Homo sapiens: one gene and its partner. The protein of the gene in region 2 interacts with the protein of the main gene of each other region in a pairwise test. Each region holds a gene or a part of one and is shown on either strand. Other genes may lie near its edges.

What was found. The genes of interacting proteins can lie anywhere in the genome.
Region 1: the proteins of MALL (region 2) and MCEMP1 interact in binary tests that used the Homo sapiens proteins (3 or more experiments, as listed by UniProt).

The regions. Positions count from the first base shown.
Region 1 is NC_000019.10:7,673,064-7,680,511, reverse strand, and holds MCEMP1 (mast cell-expressed membrane protein 1), read right to left. Parts: upstream 3,423-7,448; 5' UTR 3,392-3,422; coding exon 3,337-3,391; intron 2,876-3,336; coding exon 2,786-2,875; intron 2,409-2,785; coding exon 2,271-2,408; intron 2,163-2,270; coding exon 2,112-2,162; intron 2,022-2,111; coding exon 1,908-2,021; intron 1,589-1,907; coding exon 1,529-1,588; intron 1,415-1,528; coding exon 1,398-1,414; 3' UTR 683-1,397; downstream 1-682.
Region 2 is NC_000002.12:110,112,459-110,120,612, forward strand, and holds the start of MALL (MAL-like protein), read right to left. Parts: upstream 3,365-8,154; 5' UTR 3,335-3,364; coding exon 3,230-3,334; intron 1-3,229.

The DNA.
Region 1 (7,448 bases), on a different chromosome or scaffold from region 2:
CAAGTGCATCCATGTGGCCCGCGGTGGCTCCCGCCTGTAACCCCAGCATTTTCGGAGGCGGAGGTGGGAGAATCACTTGAGGCCAGGAGTTTGAGACCAGCCTGGACAACATAGCTAGACTCCCACTTCTTTAAAAAAAATTAGCCAGGTGTGGTGGTGTGAACCTGTAATCCCATCTACTCGGGAGGCGGAGGCAAGAGGATCGCCTGAGCCCAGGAGGTCGAGGCTGCAATGAGTCATGATCGTACCACTGCCCTCCAGCCTGGGTGATAGAGCGAGACCCTGTCTCAAAAAAACAAAAACAAACAACAACAACAACAAATCAAGTGCATGCATGAGCGGTGGACATAGTACCTTAGGGTCATGTACACTCATGGATACATGCTCAATGGCATAGATACACTCACGGGCACAATTACACACGTGGGTACACGCTTAGGGCTTGTATATATCCGTGGTCCCAGGTACACTCAGGGAGATGTTGTATGCTCAGGGGCACCCACTCTGGGACACAGGGAAGACACAGGGAATGAGTTACTCATTCACAGATGCACAGGTACTCACGCAGGGCACTCAGTCTCGCCCACCCTGGTGCCCCGGGGTCATTGTCACGTGCAGACTCTCCCTCTCCCCAGGTCCCAAAACCCCTCCCCTTGCCCCAGTAACAGGTCCCATAGCGACGCTGTTTTCCCTTGACTTTATTTATCTTCATAAGTCACAAAATGTGAGTGCAGAGATAAATGTCTGTGTGCATGTGCCCTGAGCACACAGGGTGGCATAACTCGGCACACTCATAATGACACAGCCGTTCACCCAGCCACAGATAGTGACAGGGCACACATGGCGACACCCACATGTACGGAGATAAATCTCCCCCACCATGACATGGGTAGACAGAAAACACGCCGCAGTATACTCTAGTATGTTTACACAAACAGGGAGACAGGCCCGTGCAATGCATGTCACCAACACCCACACTCAGAGTGACATCTGCTGGAGGTGCTCAGACACAGCCACCCACCGTGACATGCCGAGACTCACATATGTCACATGACACAGGCATGCATGCCACATTCACTGTGACTCTCAGTCCTATTCATTCATCACCTTTCTGGGAGATACACTGAAATGTCCACCCTTTGCAAAATGCACACACACGCGCACGCACACACGCACATACACGAACACACGCGCACACACGCACACACACGCACGCAGGTGTACACACACACGAGCAACTCCGAGACACTCATTCACCATGACTCGAGGTTTTTCTATACGTGGGACGAGGGGCAGGTTCACACTAGGCTGGGGGGGGGGGGTCATTTCCCGTCTTCGTTGGCAGGTGCAGCCCCATCTTCCAAGTTGTGGCTTTGGCTGCCACAATGTCCTCTCATTTATTGAGGTGAGGACTCTGGGGATGGGGAGAGACCCACAGTGAGGCAGATCCCGCCCCTGGGAGAGGAGCTGGGGCTAAATCTGAAGCCCCACCCACCCTCCTCCACCTCCTGTCGGGGCGCCAACTTACGTGGCATTTTCTGCAGCACCTCCAAGATTTTCTGTACCTTTGTGTCAATGTTTTTTATGCCTAGGGGGCGGGGAGGGTTGGGTGGGAACAGATAAGTCAAGCTGCGGTGGAGCCTCAAACAAAGCCCCCACCTTCCTTGGAAGCACCCCCCCTGCCCCACACCCACCCTGGGGTACAGCAGAGCCCATGGATTTGGGGTTCCCAGGAGCCTTTCAATACCCACAGAGCAACCCAGATGGTAACACCCATCGCCCCTCCACAACTTGAGCTTTGGGAGGGTAGGACCCCGGCTTTCTCCTCCCCTGAATCCCCTGCCCCCAGCTCAGCTCCGGGCATTGGTGACAAATAACCCCCATAGAAGGCGAGACTACACAGGCACCTGCTAATGTCGTCTCTAATCTATCAATCTTGCTCCTGACCATGGTGATGCTCTGCTGAACGGAATCCCAGCCTCTCTTCTGTCTCTCTTCGCATGCTTGTACGGAGTTTGAGACTGAGGGCATGAAACAGGGGTGTCTGTGCATCCATCCCTCTCCAGACCCCCACCATGACCCCACGGGTCTCCCTCAGACCCTCCGCTCACCATTCCAAAGCTCCCTTTTAAAGCCCAGCAGCTCCTTGGACATCTCAGCATCTGTTCAGGAGGGGCAGGAAAATCCTTGAAGCACCCAGGGAGAGAGAGAGAGAAGGACAAGGGAGAAAGTCTAGGCCCCCCAGCACCCTCCTCCCAAGAAGTACTCACTCTTCACCATGATGAAGGCTGACAGGATGATGCAGAGGACAAAGGCCAGGGCCAGGAGGATGTACAGGCTCAGGATGGCTCTGTACAACCAGCAGGGGACCTGGGTGGAGTCTGAGGGCGGCCTGCACTGGGCTGGGACTGGAGCAAAGAGGCAGCAAAGTGACCTTGAGGGGCCAGCACCACCACTCAAACCATCCTCACTGTCTCTAACACCATGGACACCTCGCTCCTCTCAAAACCATCAGCAGCTGTGGTCATGCAGCTTGTCATCATCGTCAACAACACTGCCACCACCAGCCACCCTCAGCGATCTAACACCGTCACCATCACAGACCCCCTCTCCAGCATTCCCCAACATTGTCATCATCAACAGACCTCATTAGCACGTCAACAGCTGTCACCTCTTCCTTCCCCATCGCTTCCTCCCTTCCACGCAGCCCCGGGGGCCCTGCAGTTGCCCGCCCACCTGCCCCTTCCCAAGGTGATGGGATGTGAGCAGGTGGGTGTCTGCTCACCTTGGCTCGTGGGTCGTGAATGACCACCCTTTGCATGGTCCTGATTTTTGAAGGCCAAGGTGATATTCTCATAGTCTGGGTCATGGGCACCTGGGAGGGGTTGGAGATCTGCTCAGAGCTCTGTGGTGTGGAGAGTGGATCCGGGATCTTGTTTTACCCAACCCTTTGCACTCAATAAATTGTAGGGGGTGAAAGATAAGGAGTGAGAAGCTAAAATCTGCTTTTTGGTTAAGTGGAGCGGGTGTGTGAGAGTTTGAGTGATCACACCACACACACATCCACACACACATCCACACATCTTGGAGGGGAAGGAGCCCCCGGCCCCCACCTTTGACCCCTTACCTCTCCCATCTGAACTCTCCTTCTTTTTTTATTTTTATTTTTTACAGACAGAGTCTCCCTATGTTGCCCAGGCCAGTCTCCACCTCCAGGGCTCACGCAATCCTCCCGCCTCAGCCTCCCAAAGTGCTAGGATTACAGACATGAGCAAAAGCCCCCGGCCCCCCAATCTCTCCTTCTTAACCCCTCCCTTCCACCTCGAGTTCCCTAACCTTGATTCTTGGCTGAGACCCCCTGTTTCTTGTCCCTGAAGGCTGGTGCTTGCATCTTGACTTCCTGGTGCTTGTAGATTTCCTCCACTTCCATGGTCCCCAGCCCGCAAATTTGTCCATACACGTCCCCGCCCACCGGAAGGTGTGGGCAGATGAGGAAATCTGGAGGTGGGGGGAAGAAAGAGGGGGAGCAGCCTCCTCTTTTCAGGGATCCACGACTCTCGCACCCTGGGGCACCCTCATTCCTGCCCCGATCAAGAGGCTCTTGGGAGCCAAGAGGTCTCAGGAAGGACCAAGAAGAAAAACCTCTAGACCGGGAGATGGAATTCGACACTCGGAAATGTTACAGGAAGCTGTGGTCTCTGTGTGTGTCTGTGTCTACCTGGATGGACCTCACCCTCCTACCTCCTCTCCATTTCAAAAGAGAAGCTGTGACACCTCAGTGTCCCAACTTTTCGCGTAAGAGCAACCAGGCTTGGAGACAGGACCCCTGGGTCCCCCCACACCTTCCTCCCTCCAGCCTCAGCTCCACCCCTCAGCTCCACCCCCAAGAAGTTCTTCTACTTCTACAAGTCCCCGTGGAGGAAAAGCACAGATGTGAGGCAACGGGAACTAACCACTGGAACGCCACACCCACATCTGGGACTGAGGACAGACCCACATCCTTCCCTCCCTCCCCAAATCCCCTGCTTTTATACAACCCTGGAGGAGGCTGGGTGCGGTGGCTCACGCCTGTAATCCCAGCACTCTGGGAGGCTGAGGTGGGTGGATCATCTGAGGTCAGGAGTTTGAAACCAGCCTGGCTAACATGGTGAAACCCCGTCTCTACTAAAAATACAAAAATTAGCTGGGCGTGGTGGCGAGCGCCTGTAATCCTAGCTACTCAGGAGGCTGAGGCAGGAGAATCGCTTAAACCTGGGAGGCGGAGGCTGCAGTGAGCGGAGATCACACCATTGCACTCCAGAATGGGTGACAAGAGGGAAACTCTGTCTCAAAAAAGAACCCTGGAGGAACAGTTTCCTCTGCACCTGGAAACTCCAGGTTTCTCATTCTCATCCATCCATCTGCTTATCTACCCAGATACTCTCTCTCACACATGTACACACACAGGTCTGCACACGGACACACATCACAAACTCATTTGCATACTATTTGCATTGTGACACTCAGAAAAATAGACACAAGCATGCGTTCACATGCCCGCACTCTGTCTAGAAGGTGTCTTAGTTCACTTTGTGTTTATCTGATCTTGAAAACTGGGGTTACAAAAGGCACAAAGTAGCTGGGTATGGTGGCTCGCTCTGTAGTCCCAGCTACCCAGGAGGCTGAGGTAGGAGGATCATTTGAGGCCAGGAGTTTGAGACCAGCGTGAGCAACATAGCAAGACCCTGTCTCTTTAAATGTTTTTTAATAATTTTTTTTTGAGACAGGGTTTCACTCTGTTGCCCAGGCCGGGGTGCAGCAGCGTGATCATGGCTCACTGCAGCTTTGACCTCCCTGGCTCAAGTAATCCTTCGTCCTCGGCTTCCCGAGTAGCTGAAATTACAGGTGGGCACGACTTCACCTGGCTAATTTTTCTCCTTTTTTGAGATGGAGTTTTGTGCTTGTCACCCAGGCTGGAGTGCAATGACGCTATCTCAGCTCACTGCAACCTCCGCATCCCAGGTTCAAGTCATTCTCCTGCCTCAGCCTCCCAAGTAGCTGGGATTACAGGCATGCACCACCACCCCCGGCTAATTTTGTATTTTTAGTAGAGACGGGGTTTCCCCATGTTGGTCAGGCTGGTCTCGAACTCCTGACTTCACGTGATCTACCCGCCTTGGCCTCCCAAAGTGCTGGGATTACAAGCATCAGCCACCGTGGCCCAGTCTAATTTTTCTTATTTTTTGTAGAGATGAGGGTCTCAATATGCCGTCCAGGCTGGTCTTGATCTCCTGGGTTCAACTGATCCTCCAGCCTTGGTCTCCCAAAGTGCTGGGATTACAGGCATACATTTTTATTTTTATTTTTTTCTGGCCAGGTGTGGTGGCTCACGCCTGTAATCACAGCACTTTGGGAGTCTGAGGCGGGCGGATCACCTGAGGTCAGGAGTTAGAGACACCAGCCTGACCAATATGATAAAACCCTGTCTCTACTAAAAATGCAAAAATTAACTGGGCGTGGTGGCAGGCGCCTGTAATCTCAGCCACTCGGGAGGCTGAGACAGGAGAATCACTTGAACCCGGGAGGTGGAGGTTGCAGTGAGCCGAGATCGCGCCATTGCACTCCAGCCTGGGCAACAAGAGCAAAACTCCGTCAAAAAAAAAAAAAAAAAAAGAAAAAAGAAGAAAGAAGAAAGAAGGAAGGAAGGAAGAAGAAAAGAAGAAAAAACAAGTATAAGACTGTCTTATGTGCAGAAAGTGATGATGTTTTGGTTAAAAATATGTGGTTAAATTTCAGACAACTTGAATGTTGAGAAATGAGCGTCGAGATCTGGTGAGGATAAAGTTCTGTTTCCTAAAATATTGCCAAATCCTGTGTCTCCAAGAAAGATCAATTTGATAATGACTTCATGCCAGCTGCTCCATTTGGTCTTAGAAAGAAGTCAGTTACTGAGCTATAGGACCGCCTTCTAATGGAGCAGACGGACCAATTGGATGTGGGCTCTGCCTTGATGGACAGGCACAGGGGGTGGAGCCACAGCGTTGCACATTTCCCGGGCTTGGGTGGGGCTGAGACGCGGCTCCAGGCTCTGGACTTCCTTTGAGAAAAAGGTCACGCTAAACCAGAGGCCCACAAGCAATCATGTCATGTGGGAAACATCTGCAAAGCTGCCTGACCAGCACCCGTCCCTTTCATAGGGTAACATTCTCAATTTTCTTTTAAGAAAGAAAATGTGTGCTAGATCCAGCAAACCATAAGCTAGGGATTGGTTTACAGTGGACAAATGATCCAGACCCAGCCAACCAGAGTCTAAGATTGGGCAGAGAGGCGGGCATTTGAGCAAGATCCAGCCAATGAAACGCTGGTCTGGGATTTTTATTGGTTTAACCACGGGGGAAAAAGCATTCTCTTTTTTTTCCAGCCCTCACTAGGGCTGCCACAATGGGAGGATGTAATGGGAGCTGTGACAGGGAAGAATTTACTTGAGAGCAAAGGCAGTGCTGAGAAAATCAGACCCGAGAGGAAGTCTGGGTCCTGGAGACATCATTTGAGACCCTGGTTCCAAGCCATACCTGAACCTGTTGTTCTAACCCTGGGCTTGTCAGTTACACAAACAAGAAACTTCCTTTTAGTTTTGCCCAAGCTAGTTTGAAGTGGGGTCTGTTGTACTTGCAAGCAGAAGAATCTTGCCTTGGCTGGTCTCTGTGGCCCACGCCTGTAATCCCAGCACTTTGGAAGGCCGAGGCAGGTGAATCACTTAAGGTCAGGAATTTGAGACCAGCCTGGCCAAAATGGCGAAATCCCCGTGTCTACTAAAAATACAAAAATTAGCCAGGAGTGGTGGTGGGCGCCTGCAATCCCAACTACTCAGGAGGCTGAAGCAGGAGAATCACTTGAACCTGGAGGTGGAGGTTGCAGTGAGCTGAGATCGTGCCACTGCACTCCAGCCTGGACAACAGAGTGAGACTCCATCTCAAAAAGGAAGAAGAAGAAGGAGGAGGAGGAGAAGGATGAGGAGGAGGAAGGAGGGAGGGAGGAGGGAGGAGGGAGGAGGATATCTTGCCTACCACAGGGGATCTAGGCATTAGCTATTGAGGAAATTGAGGCTCTAATAGGGGGTTTGCCTGTCCACATCACCTGGGCAGATATGACCTCCAAGTCTGCACTCTGGGGCAGGAGAATGTCTATGTTGGAATTGAGGAACCTGAAGAGAGCCCTCTTAGGTTTCAGATACAGGACTATTGGATGGGGGTGGAGACAAATAGTTCTGGGGACAATGGAGCATCCCCGCCCCCAACACACACACACAGCAGTAAGGGGCAGGGACACACACAAGGCACTAGACTCACCCTCTCTGGCCCTGGCCATGCTTCTAACTCAGTGGTCCTGCCCTACCCCCATGACCACTGTGGAGTCAGGAGAGAGGGTCTGGGAAGGGAATCCCTGGGCTGGAGTCTGGGTGGGGTCCC
Region 2 (8,154 bases):
AATGGCCAACAAACATGAAAAAATGCTCAACATCACTAATGATCAGGGAAATGGAAATTAAAACCACATTGTGAAACCACCTTACTCCTGCAAGAATGGCCATAATCAAAAAATCAAAAAAAAAATAGATGTTGGTGTGGATGTGGTGAACAGGAAACACTTCTACCCTTCTGGTGGGAATGTAAACTAGTACATCCACTATGGAAAACAGTGTGGAGTTTCCTTAAAGAACTAAAAGTAGAACTACCATTTGATCCAGCAATCACACTACTCAGTATCAATCCAGAGGAAAAGAAGTCATTATTCAAAAAAGATACTTGCACACACATGTTTATAGCAGCACAATTCACAATTGTGAAATTGTGTAACCAACTCAAATGCCCATCAATCAATGGGTAGATAAAGAAACTGTGATATATATATATATGTATATATATAAATATATACATATATATGATGGAATACTATGCAGCCACAAAAAGGAATGAATTAACAGCATTCGCACTGACCTGGATGAGCTCGGAGACTATGATTCTAAGTGAAGTAACTCAGGAATGGAAAACCAAACATCGTATGTTCTCACTGATATGTGGGAGCTAAGCTATAAGGACACAAAGGCATAAGAATGATACAGTGGACTTTGGGGACTTGGGGAGAAGAGTGGGAGAGGAGTGAGGGATAAAAGACTACAAATATGGGCCAGGCACGGTGGCTCACGCCTGTAATCTCAGCACTTTGGGAGGCCGAGGCAGGCGGATCACGAGGTCAGGAGTTAGACCATCCTGGCTAACACAGTGAAACCCCGTCTCTACTAAAAATACAAAAAAAAAATTAGCTGGGCATGGTGGGGGCACCTGTAGTCCCAGCTACTCGGGAGGCTGAGGCAGGAGAATGGCATGAACCCGGGAGGTGGAGCTTGCAGTGAGCCAAGATCGCGCCACTGCACTCCAGCCTGGACGACAGCGAGACTCTGTCTCAAAAAAAAAAAAAAAAAAAAAAAAAGACTACAAATGTAGTGCAGTGTATACATGGATGATGAGTGCACCAAAATCTTACAAATCACCACTAAAGAACTTACTAATGTAACCAAATACCACCTGTACCCCAATAATTTATGGAAAAATAAATTTTTCAAAAGCACAAAAAAAGAAAAAAACCTAATCAGTACTCTTCAGAAGTGTCAAGATAAGGACCCAGATTTTCCCAAATTAAAGGAGATGAAGGAGATACGGCAACTAAGTGCCATGTGGGATCCTGGACCAGAAAAAGGACATTAGTGAGAAAATTAGCAAAACTGGAGTAAGGTTTATAGAGTACTTGATAGCACAGTATCAGTGTTAGTTTCCTGATTTCAAGAGTTGTACCACGGAAGATGCAGGCATTACCAGCAGCTGAGGGAAGAGTACACAGAACTTTCTCTACTATTATTGCAGCTTTACTGTAAATCTCACGTTACTTAACAGTACAAATAAATGAAGAAAATTGGGCCAATGTGAATTTTGATTGTCATTGAGCCCCTCACCCCCCACAACACGTAAGGCCCCAGAGCCCAACACCAGCGTGCACTTTGCTCTTCCAGGAGTTTCACTGGCAGGAGCAGGGCAGGTGCGGCCAACATGACCTCTCATGTTTCTCACCCTGGGTGCTGTCCTGGTTCCAGAAACTCCGTGCCTCTAGCCTCCTTCCAGGACTTCTCCCCTGGCCTCTAGGCCTTTCCCTCTCTTTCCCCCCAGCCTGTAAATGCCTGTTCTTTGAGGTCCAACTCTTGGTGGCAGGCCTGGACCCCTCCTTGGCCTGGAGAGTTCAGATGGTCCCTCCTTGCTGAGGCCACCATCCACTTGTTGGGAGGAAATGCTCATGAGTCTCTTCCCGGCAGACAGGAAACCACCAGGAGGCAGTGCCCTGTCACCAGGGGCTTGCAGGACTGACATGAACCACAGGCTCAATAAAAAGAGGCAGAGTCAACCAGTACCCCAGCCACCCATGCAGCTGCTCCAAGGTGAGGGGCACACCCAGGGCCTGGCACGTAGGACTCATCAGAGCACGGTTATGTCATCAGTCTGGCAGGATGCCCACGCTGTGCTGGGGATGGTAGCCTTGGCAGAAACCTGCCTCTTAGGTGGGGTTTCAGCTGGAGCCACTCAGATCCTAGGCCCACCCTGCCTGATTCTCTTTCTGGTCGCCATCAATGGCTAACCCGTTCGCCAGTTTGCCTAAAAGTGGCTTGAGGGGGCCCAACTTTGCAAGCAGAAGACGAGAATGAGAAGGGCTGAAAAGTAGATGCACTTTCTATCTTTTCCCCCCTGCTCAGGGACAGCACTGCCAAATTCAGGGCAGGTAAGAAAATACCACCCACAAGCTAGATACTTCAGAAGGTGCTGGAAAAAGAAAACACTCCTTTGCCTTGATTGGACCCCAGGCTTGACTGTGCTCCTCCGTGAAGAGGATGTGGTACCAGCCAGTTCCGAGGGAACTTGTGCAGTGCGGAACGCTGCATACGCACAGCTCTGCAGATGGGAGCAGGCAGGATCCCCAGGGATCAGGGCCACGACTCAGTCGTAGGGCGCCCCAGAGAGTAACACAGCGACAGGTTCTCATTTGCAACCAGGGTGCCGCACACGACTGTTTTATGGCAGATGTTGCCATAGCTACCTGGTGTGGGAGACCCCACAAAAGTCAAAGTTCAAAGTCAGCGGACGTGACAATTAAGAAAACACTGGAAGACCTACTCTCAGAGGGAAACACAGTCTCCTCACTTCAAACCAGAAAGGCACAAATAGTTGGACAAAAGAAGCCGCGTAATTAAAATTCATGTGCAACATCTCCCTGGGAAGCCTGGATATTTTAGCGACGTCCCCCCAGGCCTCCACACTCAAGTGGGTTTTGTTTTGGAGGGAGGAACCCCCTTGGCGGCATAAGACGGGGCACCGAGTGGCATCTGCCTCTTGAGTACAGCTGCGCCCCGCTGTGCGCCCGGTGGGAGGCTGGCAGCCACCGCAGCCCCTGTGCTCGCTCCCCGCTCTCGGTCCGGTCTGGGTCTCTCTCGGCGCGGTCCGGTCTGGGTCCGAGGCCGGTCTCCCCCCCCCTCTCTGCAGGTGGCCCCTGTGCTTGCTGCCCCTCTCTCTTCTCGGTCCGGTCTGGGTCTCTCTCTTCTCGGTCCGGTCTGGGTCCGAGGCCGGTCTCCCCCTCCCTCTCTGCAGGTGGCCCGGGTCGGGGGTGCCGCACTCACCAGCTCGGGCAGGAAGAAGGCGAAAGGGATGGTGAGGAACAGCGCGACCCCCGAGGGCACGTCGGACGGGGCGTAGCTGGTGGCGGGCGGGTCGGGCGAGGCCATGCTGTCAGCCCCTGCCGGGTGCTCCGCGGCAGCTCGCCCGCGCGCAGCCTGTCAAATATCACCTCCTGCCCGACACACCCATCGGACGTCGCCTGGGAGGGAAAAAAAAAAAAAACGTTCCAGCCGAGCAGGTCCTTCCACTCGCTGCAGCCAGCAGATCCTCAGTGGGCGGCCCAGCGGCATCGGATGGCTCTGCCTGGCCGGCGGGGGGCACAGCGCTGGTGCAGGAGGGAGCAGAGCGGGAGTCTCCTCCTAGACCTTTCCAGCTAAGGAATCTTTGACCCCCGGAGCATGTTATTCCAGGGGATGCCAGCGACAGCCACTCCCCTGGGCCCAGAGTGTAGGCCCAAGCTGCTTGGCTACGAGGGCTGCGTACTGAGGACCAACAATGAGCCAAGCTATCTGCAGACAGCCCGGGTGCCCACCACGGCCTGCACGTGGCTGTTTTGCCCTTTTCCAAGTGAGGAGACTGAGAATCAGTGAGGTCAAGTCAAGACCACAGAGCTGGTTACTAACAATGCTGGGTCTTGCCCAGCTCCCTCCTTTTCCACTCTTGGGGACAGCTCTCAGTCCCCAGCCTCCCCTGGGAGGAGCAGCCCTCCCTTCCAGCTCATGCCCCTGGGACTTGGTGTTTCCTTCTTTTTCTGGATCCCTTTCCATGGTCCTCCACTCCTCTTTTCCTCATGGGGCAGATGAAGGCCCCCCAGTCTCTGGGAGAGGACCACACCGGCAGGCACCAGAGAAGGGCTGGGCTGGCTGGCTGCTGCCTCTAGTGGACAACCTCCTTCCTTCCCTGGCCTTCCTTCCAGCCAGTGCCTTGCCCCTAACTGGGCTTGAGACCAAGAAGTTTCTTCCTGACTCCTAGGCAAGTCAGGGAGCTGAATGCAGGGCTGTGACCCAGAGGCAAGCAACTCCTTTCACACCAAATACAAGTCCCAAAGGCTGAACCATTTTCCCCTCCACCTTTGAATTGGCGAACCTTCATTTTCCCGACCCGCCCTGAAACAGTCTGCTCAGGATGCTCCAGGTTAGGGTCCCTTCTTCCTGCCCCCTGCTGCTCCCTGGTGTGGAGAGCATGTGGGGAAGATTGTGTGAGGGCTGGAGTAATTAGAAGAGGCCATGTCTTGATCTCATTAGCAGAAACGGTGAATGCCAGGTCCTGCCCTCAGGGCCACAGGTGGGGAGACCAGCCAGCTTGGCCTTTGCCTGGTCTGGGGAGAGCCAAGGGAGAGAGGAGTTTGGACAAATGAAGCTAAGACCAAAGGCATTGCAAAGAAAGGCAATGAACCCCCCAGTGGATCTCAAACCAGACTGATCATCCCTTTTTCCCAGGCTACGGAAACTAGGAAGTAAGGGAGACCCTAATCCCACCTGCCAACCCCAGTCTCACCTACACCACCTTGTTTACAGGATTAATCCAAGCAAAGGAGAGATTTCTCCATGAATCCCACATCTTGCCACCTCTCTTAAAGGTTGCAAATAAGCACTGTGCCACTCTTACAGGCTGTAGGATACCTTTGACTTGCCCATGGACAACATGGCATAGTAGGAAAAGTTTAAGTAAGAAGAAAAACAACCTTCTTAGGCTCATATCTATGAAATGGAGAAAATAATACAACCCATAACCCCTTAGTCTCTTAAGCTGAGAGGCCCTGAGCCATTTCCACCTTCTGAAGCAATTAGTATATTAAGAAATGAAGATATGCCTTGGTCTTCTGGCTAAAGACCAGGGTTTTCATTTTCCTTCTCTGCTGTGCATCTCTTCTGACTGGGTCTATCTTCAGGACCAAAGCAATGTGTGTGTGTGTGTGTGTGTGTGTGTGTGTGTGTGTGAGAGAGAGAGAGAGAGAGAGAGAGAGAGAGAAACACAAATGTGAAAATTATTCCCCCCATGCTTTTAGGATCATGGTTCCTCTGATCAGAGACAAAGGTTCCCCTTTCTCAGAGTTCCAGGTACCTGCCTGGCTGCTACTTCCATTGCCACCACCACTGTCACGAGATTGCACAGGGGCTAAGGAAGGAAAGAATAAACAAACAAACAAACAAAAAACAGAGATTTTCTACACTCTCTCTGACTGTTTGGGGCTCTCTTTCCCATTCCTCAGACCAGAAACATGGATTCTTTTGGAGATGTCTTTGTCTGCATCCTGTGTACAGTTCTGGGTTTCAGGTGGTCTCTGACGCTGGCTGACAGGTACCAGAGGAAAGAAAATGGGAAACTCACCAACAGCTTAGTAGTGTTTTGAATTCTGGTTTCCTTCCCAAATATTCCTGCTCCTTTTTTTTTTTTTCTAGAATCCTCAGTTAGCTTCTCCATGCATTCTGTCCAGGGCTGTTAATTGCATTTCATGAAAGGAAGAGGAGGAGTATCCTTCTCTACTTGACCAGAGCCCAAATAGCAACATCCTGCTTAACTCTGCAAGCACTTTTCACTACCCAAGATTTCCCTGATTGATTAATTTGCCTATTGTTTGTCTCCCTGCCCCTGTCCCTCTCTAGGATGTGGGCTTAAGGAGAGCCAAAACTTTGTTCATGTGGTGAACCACAGCCATGTCCACCATCTTGAATACTGTCTGATACACAAAAGGTACTCAATAAATGTTTTTAAATGATTGAAACAGTCATGAAAACAGTCATAAAGACTTTGGAGACAACTGCTTCTCTCTTTTTTTGATTCCTATTTATTAAACTCTTTTCCCACTAAGAAATTGCTTTATCTATATTTCAGAAACAATTTACTAGTTGCATGAAAAAGAAGAGAGAAGCCAGAAGAAATCCAGAGATACTTGGGGGGAAAGAATAGACAGTTGTATCCATTGGGATTCTTTCAATAACAAAAGTTAGAAAAACCCATTCCAAATGGCTTTAGTGATGAAAGGAACGTATTACTTTAGGAAGTGAGAAGCTAAGAGGTAATAATGGCTTCGGGTGAGACTTCATCCAGTGACTTGAACAATGCCACTCAAGGTGGAGGTGACGTTACCAAGAGAGAAGTATATGGAGGCTGAGCAGCAGAAACACCAGATGTCCACTATAGTAGCCTCCCACTGTAGAAATAGGAGCAGAGCTCTCCCCTTTTCTGCTGCAAGAACACACATGTCCCACTGGCTCTCGCCTGCTAGACACAACTAGATTGCAACTATTATTTCTACAAATCAAGGTCTCTTTAACTCTCAAATGGGGTAGATAGAATGCACACACTGATAGACTCAGGAAGATGCTGTGATTAATGTTCGTAGCCATGAGGCAGAATTGAGTCTGGCTTCTTGTGTCTCTGGAGTTGGGCAAGTACAGAACAGTTGCCCGGAAAGAGGAAGGACTCAATGGGATAATGTCTGGGTCATCCAGAGATTCCTACCTGGAGAAGAGCTCAGAAAGCATGGAGACCTTTTTATTCCCCAAAATGGCCTCTTCGAAAGGACACAGTTCTGCAAAGTTAATCTTTGCTGGCAAAGTCAGATACAAATGAGCAGGTTAAGGTCCAGTCTGTCTTACAGAGTATCAGAAAAGGGCTAAATGACAGGCACACTATCAAAGTCCCAAATGTGAGCTGTATTCCATTAATGAGTTCTGTTTTATATTGCTGCACACAGACCTGCACGCCTCATTCAGTATCAGTCATCACTGAGCAGAACATCCTCGACCTCCATTTTCCTGCCTATGAGACAGTATAACCTATAGACTTTCACTTGCCATTCACTTACTATTTTTCTGAGACAAGGTTTCCCTGTTGCCCAGGCTGGAGTGCAGTGGCATGATCACAGCTCACTGCAGGCTTAACCTCCTGGGCTCAAGTAATCCTCCAACTCAGCCTCCTGAGTAGCTGGAACTACAGACCTGCACCACCATACCCGGCTAATTTTTGTATAGATGGGGTCTCATCATGTTGCCTAGGCTAGTCTCGCATGCCAGGGCTCAAGCACCCTGCCTGCCTTGGCCTCCCAAAGGTGTGAGCAACTGTGCCTGGCCCATTCACTTATCTTTATACCCATCCCTCTTTATCCAAATTGACTTGGTTACTGCATTCAAATATCAGAATTCAGAGAGCAAGTTTGAGTTTTGAGGGATACAGTATTACCAAATCCACGTGTCCTTGAGTTTCAGAGAGTAAATGTGGGAGTTCAAATAGTGAGGGATTCATTTGAAAAGGTATTTGAATCTAACTGGTCCCCAACAACAGACAGTGGGGTTGGGAGAGGGAGAGTGAGGATAGGAAGGAATGCCTGTACACTTACCATTGACTTCATGCCTGCCACGGGGCCACTAACAGCCCCAACCATAGTACTGTTGGAATTAGTTTTTGTGTTTGGCTGATTACTGTCCACCTCATGCATTGTAAGGACAGAGATCTTGCCAGGACTGTTCTCACTGTATCTTCAAAGCTCAGTGCTGTGCCTGGAACATGGCAGGTGCTCAACACTTGTTGAGTAAATGATGAATGGATAATTGTAACACTTAGATGCAAAGTGCCCTAAGTAAGGTTCTTTCTCTGCCTCTTTGTTTTGAGGAAACAGATCACAGCAGCTAGGTGACAGCTGTCTTTGATCACCTCCACACCCCAAGAAAGCCTCCCAACTTAGAATGCTTCACGCAAGAGGAAGCTGAGGCAGTTCACAGCAAAGGATATCCTATAATGCTGTAAATTGACAAAGCCCTCAACTGGCAGAGGACACTGCTGGCTTCCTCTGTTAAACTGATAGTTTCCCAACTGCTACTGGGTTGGCAAGTCAAACTTGCTCCATTTGTACACAGGGTTATGTATGTCAACTGGTTTTATGTGAGTTGCTCTGGCCTTGCGCATTAGATCACAAACACTGAAG